Regions from separate parts of the Homo sapiens genome. Here region 2 is linked to region 1. The links come from fine-mapping of genetic effects on gene expression. A gene starts in region 1. The other region holds a variant in brackets. All regions are shown on one strand. Distances are from middle to middle.

Region 1 (8,326 bases):
GGGGCACCATCGTGGCTTTCTGCAGCCTTGACCTCTGGGGCTCAAGAGATCCTCCCACCTCAGCCTCCCGAATGGCTGGGCCCACAGCCACGTGCCACCACACCCAGCCAACGTTTTGATCTTTTGTAGCGACCGTCTCACTGCGTTGTTCAGGCTGCAAGCTGTTGTTTCAAACAGATGAAGTTGGAAAGTTCTTCAGCTTCTCCAGAGTTGTTTTTTTGAATCAAGGGGTTGTGGAGCCTACATGTAAATACAAGTGTGCCTTGAGTTAAATCTCCGGGAAGACTTAGAACGGCCGTGTTGCCAGAGCTCTCCTAGTTAGCCTGCAGGACTGTCTGAAGTCCGTGTCCGTCTGACATGTTACCGGAATTAACAAACCTAGGGACGGTGAGTGCTCCTTCATGTGGCTTTCTGGCTCTCTCACCTGCCACTCAGTGCCGCTGTGACTTAGCAGCCAGAGTTTTCAGGAGACCTCCAACGTGTCCGTTGAAATTCAGGGTAAGAGTTGAGAAGTTTCCCTGTTTGTTCTAAGAGTTCTTACCCCAACCTCAGGGGAAATCAATAGTAAATTTACTCTGACTTCAATGATAATAAAGAAGTGCCCTTGCCTCATCCTCTTTATATAAAGCAATAGAGCCACATGGTTCAAAAATGAAAACAATATGAAAAGGTATTGTAAACCGGGTAAGTGTCTGAGACAAGTCTCGCCCATTTAGAGGTTTATTTTGCCAAGGCTGAGGATGTGCCTGAGACACAACCACAGATCTGTGGCCCCCGCACACTTTCCAGAGAGGATTTTTAGGGCCTCAGTATGTGGGATATGACGACGTTTCTCTTCAAATAATCTGATCAATCTTTTATTCTTTAATTCATAGCGCCCCGCCCCCTTTTTCTCCTTTTCCCTTTTTGCCTTTGTGAGATGCCCAGGCACGCCACAGCACCAGGCGTTATCAGTACCAGCTCACATTCCTTTCCTTATTTGGAAAGAGGACTAACTTTCTAGCTCATTACAGACACCCCTTCCCCTTCCTCTCCGCTTTCTTTTACGGGCCCACCCTATCTAAAAAAATCAAATGTTTAGCCAAGCGCGATTAGTTTAGATTGTACGACCTGACCCCGGCCAATGGGGAAAGGGTAGAGGGGCAGGACTTGTGTCAGGAACAAAGGCTCTCGTGCCCCTTTGTTCAGGTGTGCTCTCATGACAACTGGCCAAGGAGGCACCCCTCTGCACAGAAGTAAAATTGCTTTGCTAAGAATCCTTTGTTCGAGTGTTCTATTTCCTTAGGATTTTGAGCATTATTCCTAACAAGTATTTAAAAGGGAAAGAGCAGGAAGGGAGGGAAGAGGGAAAGGAAAAATACAGGAGGGTAGGTAGGGAGATAAGTGGTTACATTCTTATTAGGCTTTGATCAGCGCTCACCAAATCTACATGTCACAGTGAAAGGAGGGGGTAGAGGAACAGTCAGTTTTGCATTCAGCTCAGTAAATCTACATTTAGCACTCACCAAATCTACATGTTACAGTGAAAGGAGCAGGCAGAGGAACAGTCAGTTTTGCATTCAGCTCAGTAAATCTACATTTAGTGCTCACCAAATCTACATGTTACAGTGAAAGGAGCGGGCAGAGGAACAGTTACGCATTCAGCTCAGTAAGTCTACATTTAGCACTCACCAAATCTACATGTTACAGTGAAAGGAGCAGGCAGAGGAACAGTCAGTTTTGCATTCAGCTCAGTAAATCTACATTTAGCGCTCACCAACTCTACATGTTACAGTGAAAGGAGCGGGCAGAGGAACACTCAGTTATGCATTCAGCTCAGTAAATCTACATTTAGTGCTCACCAAATCTACATGTTACAGTGAAAGGAGCGGGCAGACGAACAGTCAGTTATGCATTCAGCTCAGTAAATCTACATTTAGCGCTCACCAAATCTACATGTTACAGTGAAAGGAGCGGGCAGAGGAACAGTTATGCATTCAGCTCAGTAAATCTACATTTACTGCTCACCAAATCTATATGTTACAGTGAAAGCAGCAGGCAGAGGAACAGTTATGCATTCAGCTCAGTACATCTATGTTTTGTCTCGGCTGGTGAGGGATGGTTTCTGGTGTTGTCTTTGTCCCTTACCTATGAAGATAAGCTGTTAATTTATATTGTCAGGTGAGGGAGACCACCTGGGGAGATATGTGGCCTTCTGTCTTGTAGCTTATCTGTTTAGGAACAAAAGGAAGTTTTTTGCATATTCCATGACTCAATTTCCAAGCTTAACTTTTCCTTTTCGCTTAGTGAATTTGGTCCCAAGATTTTATTTTCCTTTCACAGTATACCCCATGCCCATCAATCCCATTCCCCCTGCATCCTATAGGTAACCTCTTCTTAAGCAAATACAAATAGATAAATCCTTATTTTCTGTTTTTTTTTTTAAAACTTTATTTTACTGTTACTTTCTGCTGTCCTAATTATGGCACATTTTTACTTTCTAGGTTCTGTGATTTACAGAGTGGTCTGGCTATGTGGACAGCTTCTAAATTGTCACCACATTTTGGAGCAAGATGTATTATTTTTACAATTAATTTACATTTAACATGAATCATGATCCTAAGTGCATCAGAATGTCTTCATAACATTCGCCAAAGAAGAGAGGGCAGCACTGCTGTTCTACAGTGTGGCTCTCACCTGGTCCACAGTTACCAGAAATAGTTCTTTCGTTGCTGTGATGTCCTGGGTGGGCTTCATTCTTTAGTAATGTACTTTGTCTACAGCAACTTCCTGCAACTATGTGAACAGATCTTGAAGACACACAGTGAGGTTTGGTTTCCTTTGTCCTCTTAAGTCTTTATGGTTGTTGCTTCTATTGTTTATTGGTCCCAGTGAGAACTGCAGCTGACCTGATGTCATGATCTGTGAAGATAGTTTCTATTAAAGAAGAAGTACCAGGAAATCCCATATGCCACCGTAGACCTGCCTTTCTGGATACCATTTACTACTCCATACTCCAGCCGCCATGCACAATGGTTGTGTATGAGGCTCCTGTGATCATTAACAGGAGTAGAAGCTGGGCTCAGACACTCTGGCACTTGCATAGGTCAAGGGGTGTGTTGTGCTCTTGCAACAAATCCCACATAGACATCCATATGCATATTGTCCCACCGTCCCCTAAGCAGAAACCAGGGTTAAGTACAGAATAGTCCCGGGAACATTTTGGTTGCCCGGCCTTAGGTGAGCCTTTCTGGGGCTGGGATTTTGACACCATCTGCTCCATTGTTTCTAAACTGCTGTGTTCTGGCGCATCAATTGTTTCATCACATTATCATCACGGAAAGCTTGGTCTCCCTCAAAACATGAACCGGGTAGGCCCTGTGTTCCAGTGGGGGCTTTTGGACTTGACTTTAGTGTTTAGGAGGACAGAGTCCCTCTCCCCTCTGTGGTGCTGGGGTATTAGTAAATCAGCCTTGAAGAGATAAGGGGCTGGGGCCTCAACCTCCCAAGAGGCTGTCACTGGAGAATGGTCTCCTGCCCTCAGATCTTGGGCATTTCCACAGCACACTGTCCCCCTCGTCCTTCCAAATACCTACATACGCTCTTGTAATAGGAGAGCTGGGAACTCCACCCAAAACCATACAAAAAGTTAGTCTGTGTATTTGGACGCCTCCCCAGCACTCAGTCACCGAGTTTCTCCTTTCCAACAGCAGTCACTCTCATGCAGTTTAAGTGATTTATTGATGTCTCGGCTAAGCTTGCGACAGTTTCAGGACATTTCAGCCATCAAGGTCTAAGAAGCCCTTTCCATTCCCGAGGAGCCCTCAGCCAGCCTCCTTCTTCCTCATCTCCTCACTCTGGCCGCGTAGCCCCTCATGGCGTCCATCTTGGACGCCCCTTTGTTCGCGCTCCACGCCCCCCACTTCCTTCTTCGTCAGCTCCTCCACTTTGGCCGCGTAGCCCCTCATGGCGTCCATCTTGGACGCCCCTTTGTTCGCGCTCCACGCCCCCCACTTCCTTCTTCGTCAGCTCCTCCACTTTGGCCGCGTAGCCCCTCATGGCGTCCATCTTGGACGCCCCTTTGTTCGCGCTCCACGCCCCCCACTTCCTTCTTCGTCAGCTCCTCCACTTTGGCCGCGTAGCCCCTCATGGCGTCCATCTTGCACGCCCCTTTGTTCGCGCTCCACGCCCCCCACTTCCTTCTTCGTCAGCTCCTCCACTTTGGCCGCGTAGCCCCTCATGGCGTCCATCTTGGACGCCCCTTTTTTCGCGCTCCAAGCCTCCCACTTGGCCCTGGCTCTCACGTCTGAGGCCGGAGGGCCGGGGATGTCGCAGTCGCCCTGGGTGGCCTGTTTGTACAAGCCGTAGACCAGCAGCTTCTCCTGATCGCTCACGGGACCCTTCAGCTGCTTGAGGGCCGCGCAGCTCGAACTCCACTTGGCACATGGGGTGGTGGAGGCGGTCCCTGGTGCTAGAAGCTGGAGGTGGAGAGTTGGAGTGGCTGTTACTACTCGATCTCAGGGGGAGGAGACAGGCACGCGATGTTTGTGTTTTGTCAAGCACAGATTGCAAGCTCGGGGTCCAGCGTAAACCCCACCATGTTTGGGCTCACACGGCGCATTTTCTGGGGAGGACCAGCCGTCAAAAAGCGTCTAGGATCCGGAACGCTGCTGTCTGGAGGGGGCGGCGCGGCAGGAGCGCGTTGAGGGACTGTATGTGGCGCGAGCTGGGCGGGTGGGAGTGGAAGCCTCGCGTGGTGCGGCCGCGCTGGGTGGTGGGCGTCCCGGGGGAGGCGCTCGGTGGGGGTGAACTGTGTGCGGGGCACGCCCGGGGTTACCGGGTGAGGGTGAATGCGGGGCCGGGGAATCATGAGCCCGACCCGCTGGGACCCCGGAAGAGGGGCCGGGCAGGGGACGGTGCGGAGGGGTCTAGTGAGCGACGTCCGGGTACCTGAGGGCTGGTGGGAGGGCTCTGCCGGAAGGCGGCGCTGTGCGCTTGGCGCGCTCGTTCGTGAGGACTGCGCGTGCGCGGCGGAGGCTGTGGGCGGGGCCGGGCGGAGGTTGTGAGCAGGCCTAAGCGCGGCCGCCGTGGCTCCTGCGTCTCCCATCGTGCCGTGCGTCCCGCGCCGCGTTCGAGTTCTCGGAGGGGAGGGGGCGTTAGCCCCGCGCAGCCGCCGGCGTCGCCGCCATGGACCTAGGTGGGTGCCGCGGCTCCCCGGCCCCGGGCTGCGTCCAGCAATGCGCCACCAGAGCGGTGCTGCCCCGTCGCGTCTCCTCCTGTCGCGCACGCTCGCGCGGGCCCGGACCGAAACGTCCCCCGCGTCGGGGCGGGTCTAGGGGTCCCGGGGTGGCCTTGGCGGGGGGTGGTCCGGGTCCCGCCGCGCGTTGGGCCGCGTCTTGCCGCCTCCGGCCCCCTGCGCTTGAAAACACGGAGCAGACGTGAAGTTAGAGCCCTTGGAAGCGCCCGGGGCTCGCGCACGTGCTTTGGGAAACGGGCTCCCTCCGAGCACCCCTGGGCGCCCCGACGGCCTCATTTCCTGAACGGCAGCTGCGTTCTTGAGCAAGTGTCTTAACGCTCCAAGTGTCTTACGCTCATGACGTTTCCTCATCGACAGAGCGGGGAGAATGGAAGTGTGTCTCCCCACTGAGTTTTGGGCGACTTTGCATTGAGATCGCCGAGGTACAGTGTCCCTTGTGGGGTTGCGCGGGTCACACCCGCGGTGGGGGCGGCTGCGCTCCTGAGGTATCACTTTGTGAACCTGCGTGCGTCCGGATTCAGAATCTTACAGGCAAGGTCTGGGAGGGAGCCCATAGGAACTAGATGCTCCCTGCTAAATCTTGGCACACGCTGCTAAGACCAGGAGGCTGTTCTGGGAGAGCTGGGGGTGAGGCACCCCGAGATGTGTCAGCAGTAGTAGGCTGGGGGGAAATGGTCTGGTCCCCGCCCCCAGACAGCTTTTCAGGAGCGGAATGGCAGAGCTCTAAGGGCTTGGAGCCCCTCAGCCGTAATTGCTTCCCAGCCCCACCACATTCAGGCTGGGACACCCTCAGCAAATCGTTTCTGCGCCTCAGTGTCCTTATCTCTAGAGCAGGAATACTAGTCCTCAAAAGGTGATTGTGAATAGAAGAGATCTTACCTGTGTACCACCTAGCACAGTGTCTGGCATGGAGTAGGTGCTTAATAAACCTAAGAAGCGGGCTGTGGCAAGCACTAGTTAACCATCCATGATAGAGTACCGGAGTATTTTCCAGCTAGTAACCGCCCTGGGACTTACTACTTCAAACTGTGCGTACTTAATGCGCCTGGAAGGCAGGTGTTTAGGGCCAAACATCTGCTCAACTAAGCCAATAATGCAATAAAATTAAATTTACAGCGTCAGGAGGGACTATATTTTGGGACCCTGGGAGAGCCTCCTGAGCCAGAAAGAAGGGCGGTAACCCCCAGGGAGGTCCCCTTCGCAGCGTAACCCTCCCTGGGAGTCGGTCTCAGCCACTGTGAGATGAGATGGATTGCCTCCACAAGTGGGTTACATAGTGCTGAGCCCTTGGCCTGCTGCCGCTCCCATAAATGGTGGGAGGGGTAAGATGGTCCTTAGTCTCCTGGAGTCAGTGTTTTCTCTGCTGGTGTCTGGCCTGTGAAAATGGGGAATATGAGCTCTTGGGGGCATGACAGACTGAGGAAGGAGTAGCATCTCTCACTCCTGGGAAAGGGGAGATGACTCAGGAATGAGGAATAGGGAGCAGTGTTTGCACCCTCGTTTTAGTTTCTGGGCCAAAGGAAACATACCTGATAAAGACCTACATCCTTTGATGTTTCTGAGCTGGGGGAGGCAAAGAATAGTGACAAGATTCTGGTCTTGCCAACCATGAAAAGGTTTGGGGAAACCAACATTTACTGAGCACCTAATTAGACTCTGTAACTGGATTCTTACTGTAGCTCTATCTCATTTATCCATCATAGCGTCCCGGGGAGATGGGGTCAGGAGATAGCAGTGCCAACCCACTAGCAAGGGCTTGACTGGTATATATCACATGATCCCCAAAGGCATAACATGAAGTCTGTATTATCCCCACATATGCAGAAGGAAGGCTTGGAGAAGCAATCTGACCAAGATCACATCCCTTTTTTTTTTTCGGAGATGGAGGGGGAGTCTCACTGTGTTACCCCAGCTAGTCTTGAACTCCTGGCCTCAGGGATCCACCTGCCTCAGCCCCCCAAGTAGCTGGGATTACAAGTGCTAGCCACTGAACCTGGCCAGAATCACATCATTTTTAAATGGCTGAACTAGGATTTAAACCCATGTCTGATTAAACATCCCAAGATGTTTTCCATGGTAAGTCTGTGTCAATCGTTAGTTCCCTGAAGGAAGGCTTAATCTAGCACAGTATTTTCTGTATCTACTCCCTGGTTTCTCCCACAGAGCTAGGGCCATGAGTACCTTGTTTTTGACTGGAAGGAGCTGTGGGGTGGACCGTTTCCCTGAAAGCTAGAAGAATGTTTGAAGCCTGTTCCCAAGGCAAGTTTATAAAGAGTGAAGGCAGGGCTTGTCTGATTCCTTCTGTGCCCATTGCTCTGTGGCTATGTGATTGCTCTGTGCCCATTACCCTGTGGCTGTGTGACTGCTGCTGTGCCCGTTACCCTGTGGCTGCGTGATTGCTGCTGTGCCCATTACCCTGTGGCTGTGTGATTGCTCTGTGCCCATTATCCTGTGGCCGTGTGATCGCTCTGTGCCCATTACCCTGTAGCCGTGTGATTGCTGCTGTGCCCATTACCTTGTGGCTGTGTGATTGCTGCTGTGCCCATTATCCTGTGGCTGTGTGATTGCTCTGTGCCCATTATCCTGTGGCTGTGTGATTGCTCTGTGCCCATTATCCTGTAGCCGTGTGATTGCTTCTGTGCCCATTACCCTGTGGCTGTGTGATTGCTGCTGTGCCCATTATCCTGTGGCCGTGTGATTGCTGCTGTGCCCATTACCCTGTGGCCGTGTGATTGCTCTGTGCCCATTACCCTGTGGCCGTGTGACTGCTGCTGTGCCCATTACCCTGTGGCCGTGTGATTGCTGCTGTGCCCATTACCCTGTGGCCGTGTGATTGCTCTGTGCCCATTATCCTGTGGCCGTGTGATTGCTCTGTGCCCATTACCCTGTGGCCGTGTGATTGCTCTGTGCCCATTACCCTGTGGCCGTGTGATTGCTCTGTGCCCATTATCCTGTGGCCGTGTGATTGCTCTGTGCCCATTATCCTGTGGCCGTGTGATTGCTCTGTGCCCATTATCCTGTGGCCGTGTGATTGCTCTGTGCCCATTACCCTGTGGCCGTGTGATTGCTGCTGTGCCCATTACCCTGTGG
Region 2 (8,326 bases), 39 kb before region 1:
AGGGCCAAAAAATCCATCTCTCGAATGTCAGAGGACATGGAGGTCCTACTTGGCAGGCTTGCAGTGAGTACGCCCCGCCCTCGGCATCTCAGAGGAGCAGGGAAGGGAGGCTGAGGCCGGAGCTTGCTGCAGCCGTCGGCTCCTCCCTCCCCAGCCTTGTTCCCTGTTCCCTTCCTGCATTTCTTTTTTTTTTTTTTAAAGACAAGAGTTTCACTTTTGTCACCCAGGCTGGAGTGCAGTGGCACGATCTGACTCACTGCAACCTCCGCCTCCCACATTCAAGCAAGTCTCCTGTCTCAGCCTCCCAAGTAGCTGGGACTACAGGCACACGCCACCACGCCGGGCTAATGTTTGTATTTTTAGTAGAGACAGGGTGTCGCCATGTTTGCCAGGCTGATCTCAAACTCCTGACCTCGTGATCCGCCCGCCTTGGCCTCCCAAAGTGCTGGGATTACAGGCGTGAGCCACCGCACGCGGCCCCCTTCGTGCCTTTTGAGGAAGCAGCAGCCTTGGTCATGGCCCATAAGAACTCAGACTTCAACTGAAAAAAGTGGCTCTTCCCTACACAACAGTCCAGGAAGCTGGATATTGGGAGTGTGGTGAGACGAGAACTGACCCATCCATAAGCTATTCTGGATTCTCTGTCACTCTCAGCCGTGGAGCATCAAGCAGGCTTCCTGAAGCTTCGGGAGGACCTGGCTTCAGCTGCTGTCTCAGCTGCTCGAATGTAACATGGTTCCGTAGTTGAGACTTCAGTCATCCTGAGCAATAAACCAGCTCATCCACTAACTTGGCTCCTAGCTTATTACATGTGTGCACTCCCTGCACTGATGAAAACAGGAAACATGGCGGGCGCAGGGGCTCACGCCTGGCATCCCAGCACTTTCGAGGCTGAAGCAGGAGGATAGCTTGAGGCCGGGAGTTCAAGACTAGCCTAGGCAACGTGGCAAAACCCCATCTAAAAAAAAAAAAAGAAAACAGAGGAAACACAATCATGGAATTTTTAAGGTGGCAACATGTTTTCTTAAAAACAGGTGAGCCTGTCAGCTCTGCTCCTGAGGGAGAGGTAGCTTGGTCAAGAGGGCAGCCCCAGGCCCTGCAGTACAGCTGGTGATTTTCAGCCCAGAGCCCTGGAACCTTGGATGGGGAGTGTGTGTGAGGGCTGTGCGTGGTAGAATGGCAAAAGTGGGGCTAAGTGTGGCCCAGCGTGGCTGGTGCGGACATCTGGGGTTGCTGTCAACCCCGGGGCAAGCAGCGGAAGGTCCCAGGTGAACGGCAGGTCCCCAGAGGTCTGTTTCTCCTCTGGACCTTAATGACCAGGCTCCCAGCCAGGAGCCAGCGGCTGGGGCGAGGGGAGAGTGATTTCAACGCTCTCTGCCCCGAAGCAGGAACCGAAGGGCCAGCCGGTGGGCACCCAGCGTGAGCTCCAGGCACATCTGGACACCTATGCTTTGCCCAGAGTTGCTTTTCTCAGAGGCTGCAGTCACAGGGAAAAGTTGTGACGGTCTTTCCTGCTATTTCCCGTTCGTCCTCTTTCGCCTCCGTTTTTGTTCCCATGTCTTCCTGTACTCCGGGTTCTTTCTTCTGAGGTGGTCTGGGACAATCTGGATGGGTCTCCGGCTTTAACACCCCGGAGCACAGACAGCTTGCAAAATGCTCTCTGGTGGAGGGAGACTTCACTCCATCCTCTTTTCCTCCCTTTTCAACGATTTAAATCCAGGAAAAAATCGCAGCCCCGCCCTTCAGCACTGGGGTGGTTTTGGAGGTGTCGCCTGCCACCTCCTGGCAGACGCCACTGTGACAGCTACGCCACCACACAAAGGCGCGGGAGCGTGGCCAACATCCTGACAATGTTTGTCTCTCGGCCAAGCAGTGTTTTCCTTGTCAAATGTGGCTCGTTTTTTATTCCTGTTTACTGGGGAAATGGTGACAGAACAAATGTCAGACTCAAAACTGAGAATTCAAGGTAGTGATTTTCCAGAATCACTCAGCAAATAACAACCATCTGTTCCCCTGTATTCACTGAAGAAAGGACAATTTGCCTCCCTCCTGCACCCTCCCTCGTCCCTACTAAATTATACCCATGAATATATAAAGTGAACTGAAGGCACCGTGGCATATAAGCCACGGACTCTAAAGCAAAGGGATGTAAATTTCTTTTCCCTCTCACACCCAGGATAAAATGGGCTTAGAATTACTTGTCAGTGTTGGCCGGGCACTGTGGCTCACGCCTGTAATCCCAGCACTTTGGGAGGCCGAGGCGGGTGGATCACGAGGTCAGGAGATCAAGACCATCCTGGCTAACATGGTGAAACCCCGTCTCTACTAAAAATACAAAAAATTAGCCGGGCGCAGTGGCTCACGCCTGTAATCCCAGCACTTTGGGAGGCCAAGGCGGCGGATCACAAGGTCAGGAGATCGAGACCGTCCTGGCTAACACGGTGAAATCCTTTCTTCACTAAAAAAACACACAAAATTAGCCAGGCTTGGTGGCAGGTGCTACTCGGGAGGCTGAGGCAGGAGAATGGCGGGAACCCGGGAGGCAGAGCTTGCAGTGAGCCGAGATCGCGCCACTGCACTCCAGCCTGGGCGACAGAGTGAGATTCCGTCTCAAAAAAAAAAAAAAAAATTACTTTCCAGTGTTTACATTGCTTTTTCTAAACAAGGACAAGGTAATACATGGTTTATTCTTTCACTGTTATTTTGTAACGAGTCAGTGGGAGTATAACCCGGGGAACAAATCCCACGAGATTGGTTTTAGGCTGGAAAGATGTGAGCTTCCTTTTCGTGACTCCTGCTGCTTGAGCACTGTCCTGAGGTGTCTGGGGAGACTGGAGTGGGATGGATTTGCATTCTCCAGGCCGCCTTTCCGCCTGTCCTCTCTGCACCAGCCTTTGGGAGCAGTGTTGGGGGGACACTTGCATTGCCCATTCATGTGGAGCTCTGGGCAGGCCCAGACCACAGTGGGGCTCCAGAGCAGATGTTCAAATATTCAGATGTCAGCCTGGGAGGACACTGTCCCTGCAAACACCCCTCCCCCAGGGGAGAGCAATCCCAACCTGCCCCTTGGCACGTGAATCATGCTTGGTCATTTGGTTTTACTAGGAAGAGGGAGTTTGACTAGGAAGTTGGGGGAGTAGAAGAGAAAGAAGGTTTCTCCTGGGCACACCAGCAACACACTTGACCTCCCTGGAGTGAGCAGTGTCCAAACCATTACGGGAGCCGCTGGGCAGAGGGGTGTGGGGAAACGCTTCCTGTGTTGTCTTCAACTCCAACTCTGTGTGGCTGCAAAAGCAGTGCTTTTTTTTTTTTTTTTGAGACGGAGTCTCGCTCTGTCGCCCAGGCTGGCGTGCAGTGGCGCGATCTCGGCTCACTGCAAGCTCCGCCTCCCGGGTTCACGCCATTCTCCTGCCTCAGCCTCCCGAGTAGCACCTGCCACCACGCCTGGCTAATTTTGTGTATTTTTTTAGTGAAGACAGGATTTCACCGTGTTAGCCAGGACGGTCTCGATCTCCTGACCTTGTGATCCGCCGCCTTGGCCTCCCAAAGTGCTGGGATTACAGGCGTGAGCCACTGCGCCCGGCCTCCCGAGGTGCTGGGATTACAGGCGTGAGCCACTGCGCCCGGCCTCCCGAGGTGCTGGGATTACAGGCGTGAGCCACCGCACCTGGCCAGCAGTGCTTAAGAGTCCCATATTCCACCCACCCACCCCATCCCCACAGTTCCTTATAGATACATTGATGACCATCAGCACTTGCCCTGACACCCTGGCTACATCCTGGTTTGGCCGCTAGTAGGTAAAGATCCAGCTTGCCCTGGGCCCTGGAGGGGCTGAGAGAACAGAAGGGTCCTGCCGCTGTATTGTGGGCGTTCATTCTCAGAACCTTGGCCTCTAAACATTGGGGGATGAGACGTAAGTAGGACTAACACAGGGAACCAGGAAACAGTGACACTTTCCTGACACATGCAGGGTGAGGCTGCCGATTTTGAAATTCAGTTTTCCGCATAGACTTCC[G/A]TCTCTGCAAAGTCCTCAAAAAGGTATCTGCAGAGGTGCCAAGAAGGTCTGACATGGCCTGTTGAATTAAGCCGTTTCTATGGATACATAAACAGTGGCTCAGTGAAGCCCTGAACAATCTCAAAGACAGACCATCTGAGCCCAGAGCAGAGCTGCTGGATGCCATGAGCGTAGCCCTCAGCTTCCTGGTGTTCCCTTAGCCACGTCCTCGTTACCAGGCCAAACGTGACAGGTACTGTGACACACCAACGACACAAAACAACTTACTAACGTAATCTGCTGCTCATAGTTTATTTTCCACCAACCAGTGATCAGCTGTGAGTGATGTGGCTGTGACCTATAGCTGGTGCTTGGCGATTACAAACACCCACCAGCTGGTGGAGCAGGCGCCTCCCTGCCAGGATGATGCTTCAGGAACTTTCTGGGCACAAAGTGCTTCTTGGTGGACAATTTTTAAAAACACACAGAGCCACGTGGGTCACCTATTGTCACCAAGAGAAAAAAGAACCTCAAAATCAGTGACGCGACAGGAAGAATTCGGACCTGTTCTTTCTGAGGAAGTTCTTATTTTTCCTGTAACTGTATGACGGCATCACACCTTCCTCCTGAACGTGGGGGCCATAGTCACTGACTCCGCCAGCCTCCCACCAGTGTGCTGGTGTAGGAGGAGCTGCAGACGTCCTCAAGCAGAAGTCACTTCTGCGTCCTCAGTGGTAACTCCTGTCCCTGCTCAAGTCCTCCGCCCTCCCCCGCAGCTGTCTTTTCCCTTCGAAAAGCAGGATGCTTGCCGCCATGGCCGAGTTGAGGCTGTCCACACCAGGCACAACGGGGATCAGCAGCCTCTTGCCACCAGTGCTCTCGGCCAGCTGCAGGGACTCCAGGCTCACGCCGTAGGTCTCCCCGCCAATCACCACAGCTGCCGGCGCCTCTGTCCAGTCCGAGTCGTAACTCTGAACCTCAACATGAGGCAGCCAATCTTGACTGGCTCCGGTTTCTACATCTTCCTCTTCCTCATACTTGTGAAACTTCATCACTCGTTGATCACACACCCAGCCATGGTCACTAGCTTTATTAGACATCTCAGCCTGGGCATAAAGGCCACAGTTGTCAGCCACATAGACCCGAGTGTCAGGGGGCAGGTAATTGGGCACGGTTTCCCATTCCAGATTATTGATAATGGGCATCCGGAAATGTGCGCCCATACCCGCCCGGAGCACTTTGGGCTCCCAGGCATCCACACAGCCTGGAAAATAAAAAGGAAACAATCAAGATGTTACAAATCTTCCCAGACCAGGGGACTGTGGAGTAAGTCTGATCAATTTTGGATCAGGAGATAAACCAGTTCTTCTATGATAGCTTTCTTGAGGGATGGGACCTTCTGCCTCTCTCTGACAGCATCCAGCACAGCGACTATAGGAGTCACTCCTGCTAGTGCTGAAGATATTTTATGCATCCCTTCAACATCTCCCATTCACACGTGCCAGACACTGCGCAGAAGATGCAAAGATAATGAAAGTCCCCAACCCCAAGGAACGCACAGTGTAGTGGGGTGGTATTAAACAGATGGCTACAGTATCAGTAACTGATGTAAAAGAAGCACCCACACAGTCATAGAAAACCCACGGACAAAGCAGGGCGATGAGGAAAACCATCTAAAAGACCACCACACTGAGATAAAGGCCCAGGCAGAGGACAGAGCTAGGAGAGGAAGCGGGAGAGTGGCGCAGCCTAAGGACTGCAAGCATGGTGAGCCGGCCAATCAGCGGTGGCGCTGTGGCGGCACAGGAGGTGAGCCAGCCAATCAGCCGGTGGGGGTGTGGTGGCACAGTTGAGGTGGCCAATCAGCGGGTGGGGGGGGGGTGTGGTGGCACAGGAGGTGAGCTGGCCAATCAGCGGGTGGGGGTGTGGTGGCACAGGTGAGCCTGCCAATCACTGGTGGTGCTGTGGCGGCACAGGGGGTGAGCCGGCCAATCAGCGGTGGCGCTGTGGCGGCACAGGAGGTGAGCCAGCCAATCAGCCGGTGGGGGTGTGGTGGCACAGTTGAGGTGGCCAATCAGCGGGTGGGGGGGTGTGGTGGCACAGGAGGTGAGCTGGCCAATCAGCGGGTGGGGGTGTGGTGGCACAGGTGAGCCTGCCAATCACTGGTGGTGCTGTGGCGGCACAGGGGGTGAGCCGGCCAATCAGCGGTGGCGCTGTGGCGGCACAGGAGGTGAGCCAGCCAATCAGCGGGTGGGGGTGTGGTGGCACAGGCAGTGAGCCGGTCAATCAGCGCTGGGGCTGTAGTGGCACAGGAGGTGGGAGGTGGGCAGGCCAACACGGAGGAGGCCTCCTATGGGAAGCTGAGGAGTTTGGCATTTTATCAGAAGACAGTATCATGCCATTGAGGGATCTTAAGCAAAGCAGTGACAGAATCAGATCTATAGTTTCATCAAGACCCATTGGGCTTCAACGTTCAGTCTGCACCGGAGCAGGGAACACTCTAGAGATGAGGCAATGAGGCAAGAGGCAACCCCGGCAGCAGCCTGCGACGCCTGGCCTTTCCCAGGGGCGGCTCCTCACCACGGGCGGGCTGGGAGAGTGGCCGAGGGTGGGGCCTCGCAGTGACTGCATGGCCTCCCACCCTCCCCCGCACAGCTTGTTAGCGCAAGTCTTCTCCTGACGAGTTATTTTAGAAGTTCATTTGTCAAACCTCGGGATAGACGAACCAGGCAAACCAGATTTTAAACGGAGAATAAGACACAGAGGATGTAACAGCGCCTGCACCCCCAGCCACGGGCTTTCCCTCTCCCTGCAGGAAACCAGAGATAGGCCCAGGCGTGTGAGAGGAGCGGCCGAGGCTGACCCCTCTGCCTGGAGGGGAGAAGGGAAAGGGGAAAGGCGAGACTCCTCCCGTCATCCTCATGTCCTGGATACTGGGCACCACACCAAGTATTTCCTACCTTCTTTCCCTATTTCTTACACCCCAGCCATCAGTATCAATGTGAAAACCACAATGCTTGGATTATTTAGATTTATTTCCAAATCCCACAACAGCTATCAGAGCACTAAATAATGGGGCGAGTAAGCGGGTACTGATCACAGAACCCCAGCACGTAGCTCTCACACTGGCACAGAAACGTATTCTAGCAAGGCGTGACTGAGAAAGAGCTGCGAGCAGCAATTTAGGCAAGTCTCAACAACGGGTGCCACTATTAGTTTACTTTTAATGGTGGCTGGGGTGTTTCTGATGAATGGTACTCTCTGTCCCCTCCACCTCCCAAGGTGTAAGAGACATTTTAGGCGTGCTCCAACTGTGAGGAAAGTCTGTTTAGAGCCAAGCCTATTAATCCCTATTTCTGATGAGAAGAGACAGAAATGTAATGAGGCGAATTTGTGTGCGGGGCATGTGACCCACGCTGAGGCTAAGGGAATCTAAGGGAAACGGATCACAATGACATTAGGATTCAGAGCTGCTGACGTCATTCCTTTCATAGGATTCAGAAGTCAAGACTCAGGAGTGGCTCATATACTCAGCAATTTGGGAACTCAATATCATTACATAAAGAACCAGAAACCAAGTGTTAAAATTGGCATCTATTTCTTTTCCATAATCGATGTGAAGTTCTCTAACAGCCTAGCAGGTTTCATGATAATTTTAAAAGATAATAAACATGGCTGGGTATGGCGGCTAATGCCTATAATCTCAGCACTTTGACAGGCCGAGGCAGGAGGATCCCTTGAGCTTAGGAGTTCCAGATTAGCCTGGGCAACACAGCAAGACCCCGTCTCTACAAAAAACATAATTTTTAAAAAAGAGAATCAACATTGACTGAATTACTCGTGAGGCAGGTAAGGTATGAAGTAACTTCTGTGCATCATCTCACTTAATCCTCACAGTGACCAGGGAGATTCTGTTATTCCTCCCAGTTCACCAACGAGGAAGCTGACACTTCAGGGACTACTGCTCAGGGACCACAGCTAGTGAAGGCAGACCCATCCAAAGCCGTGTCTGCCTGCCCAGAGCCCTAGCTCACCTAACAATGGTCGACTTGGCTGGGCGTGGTTATTCATGCCTGTCATTCCAGCTACTGCTCAGGGACCACAGCTAGTGAAGGCAGACCCAAGATCCAATGCATGTCTGCCTGCCCAGAGCCATAGCTCACCTAACAGTGATTGACTTGGCTGGGCATAGTTGTTCATGCCTATAATTCCAGCACTTTGGGAGACTGAGGCAGGAGGACTGCTTGAGTCAGAGCCAGTTCAACACCAGCCTGGGCAACATAGTGAGACCCCATCTCTTTAATAAAAAAAAAAAAAAAAAAAAAGACCAGA

Which allele goes with the higher level. Positions count from the first base shown, and alleles are read on the strand shown. Sizes are in standard deviations (SD) of each study's normalised expression.
In carriers of allele A in region 2, the expression in subcutaneous fat of the gene that starts at base 5,045 in region 1 tends to be higher than with G alone (small effect, 0.21 SD a copy in GTEx).

The links.
Region 2: its variant is fine-mapped to the expression of GEMIN4 in subcutaneous fat (GTEx, PIP above 0.99).

Annotation. Positions count from the first base shown.
Region 1 is chr17:748,983-757,308 of GRCh38, reverse strand. GEMIN4 (gem nuclear organelle associated protein 4) reads left to right here and starts at 5,045. Exons shown (of 2, transcript NM_015721.3): 1 at 5,045-5,176. The coding sequence starts at 5,167. It also overlaps the pseudogene DBIL5P. RefSeq lists silencers at 4,666-4,925, 5,106-5,525 and an enhancer at 5,706-5,765.
Region 2 is chr17:788,466-796,791 of GRCh38, reverse strand. MRM3 (mitochondrial rRNA methyltransferase 3) reads right to left here. Exons shown (of 4, transcript NM_018146.4): 4 at 4,283-5,258. The coding sequence ends at 4,723. Among named protein-coding and RNA genes, the nearest start is that of MRM3, 10 kb to the right of the region's middle. RefSeq lists an enhancer at 5,629-5,923. The variant G/A (reference allele first, on the strand shown) is at 4,016.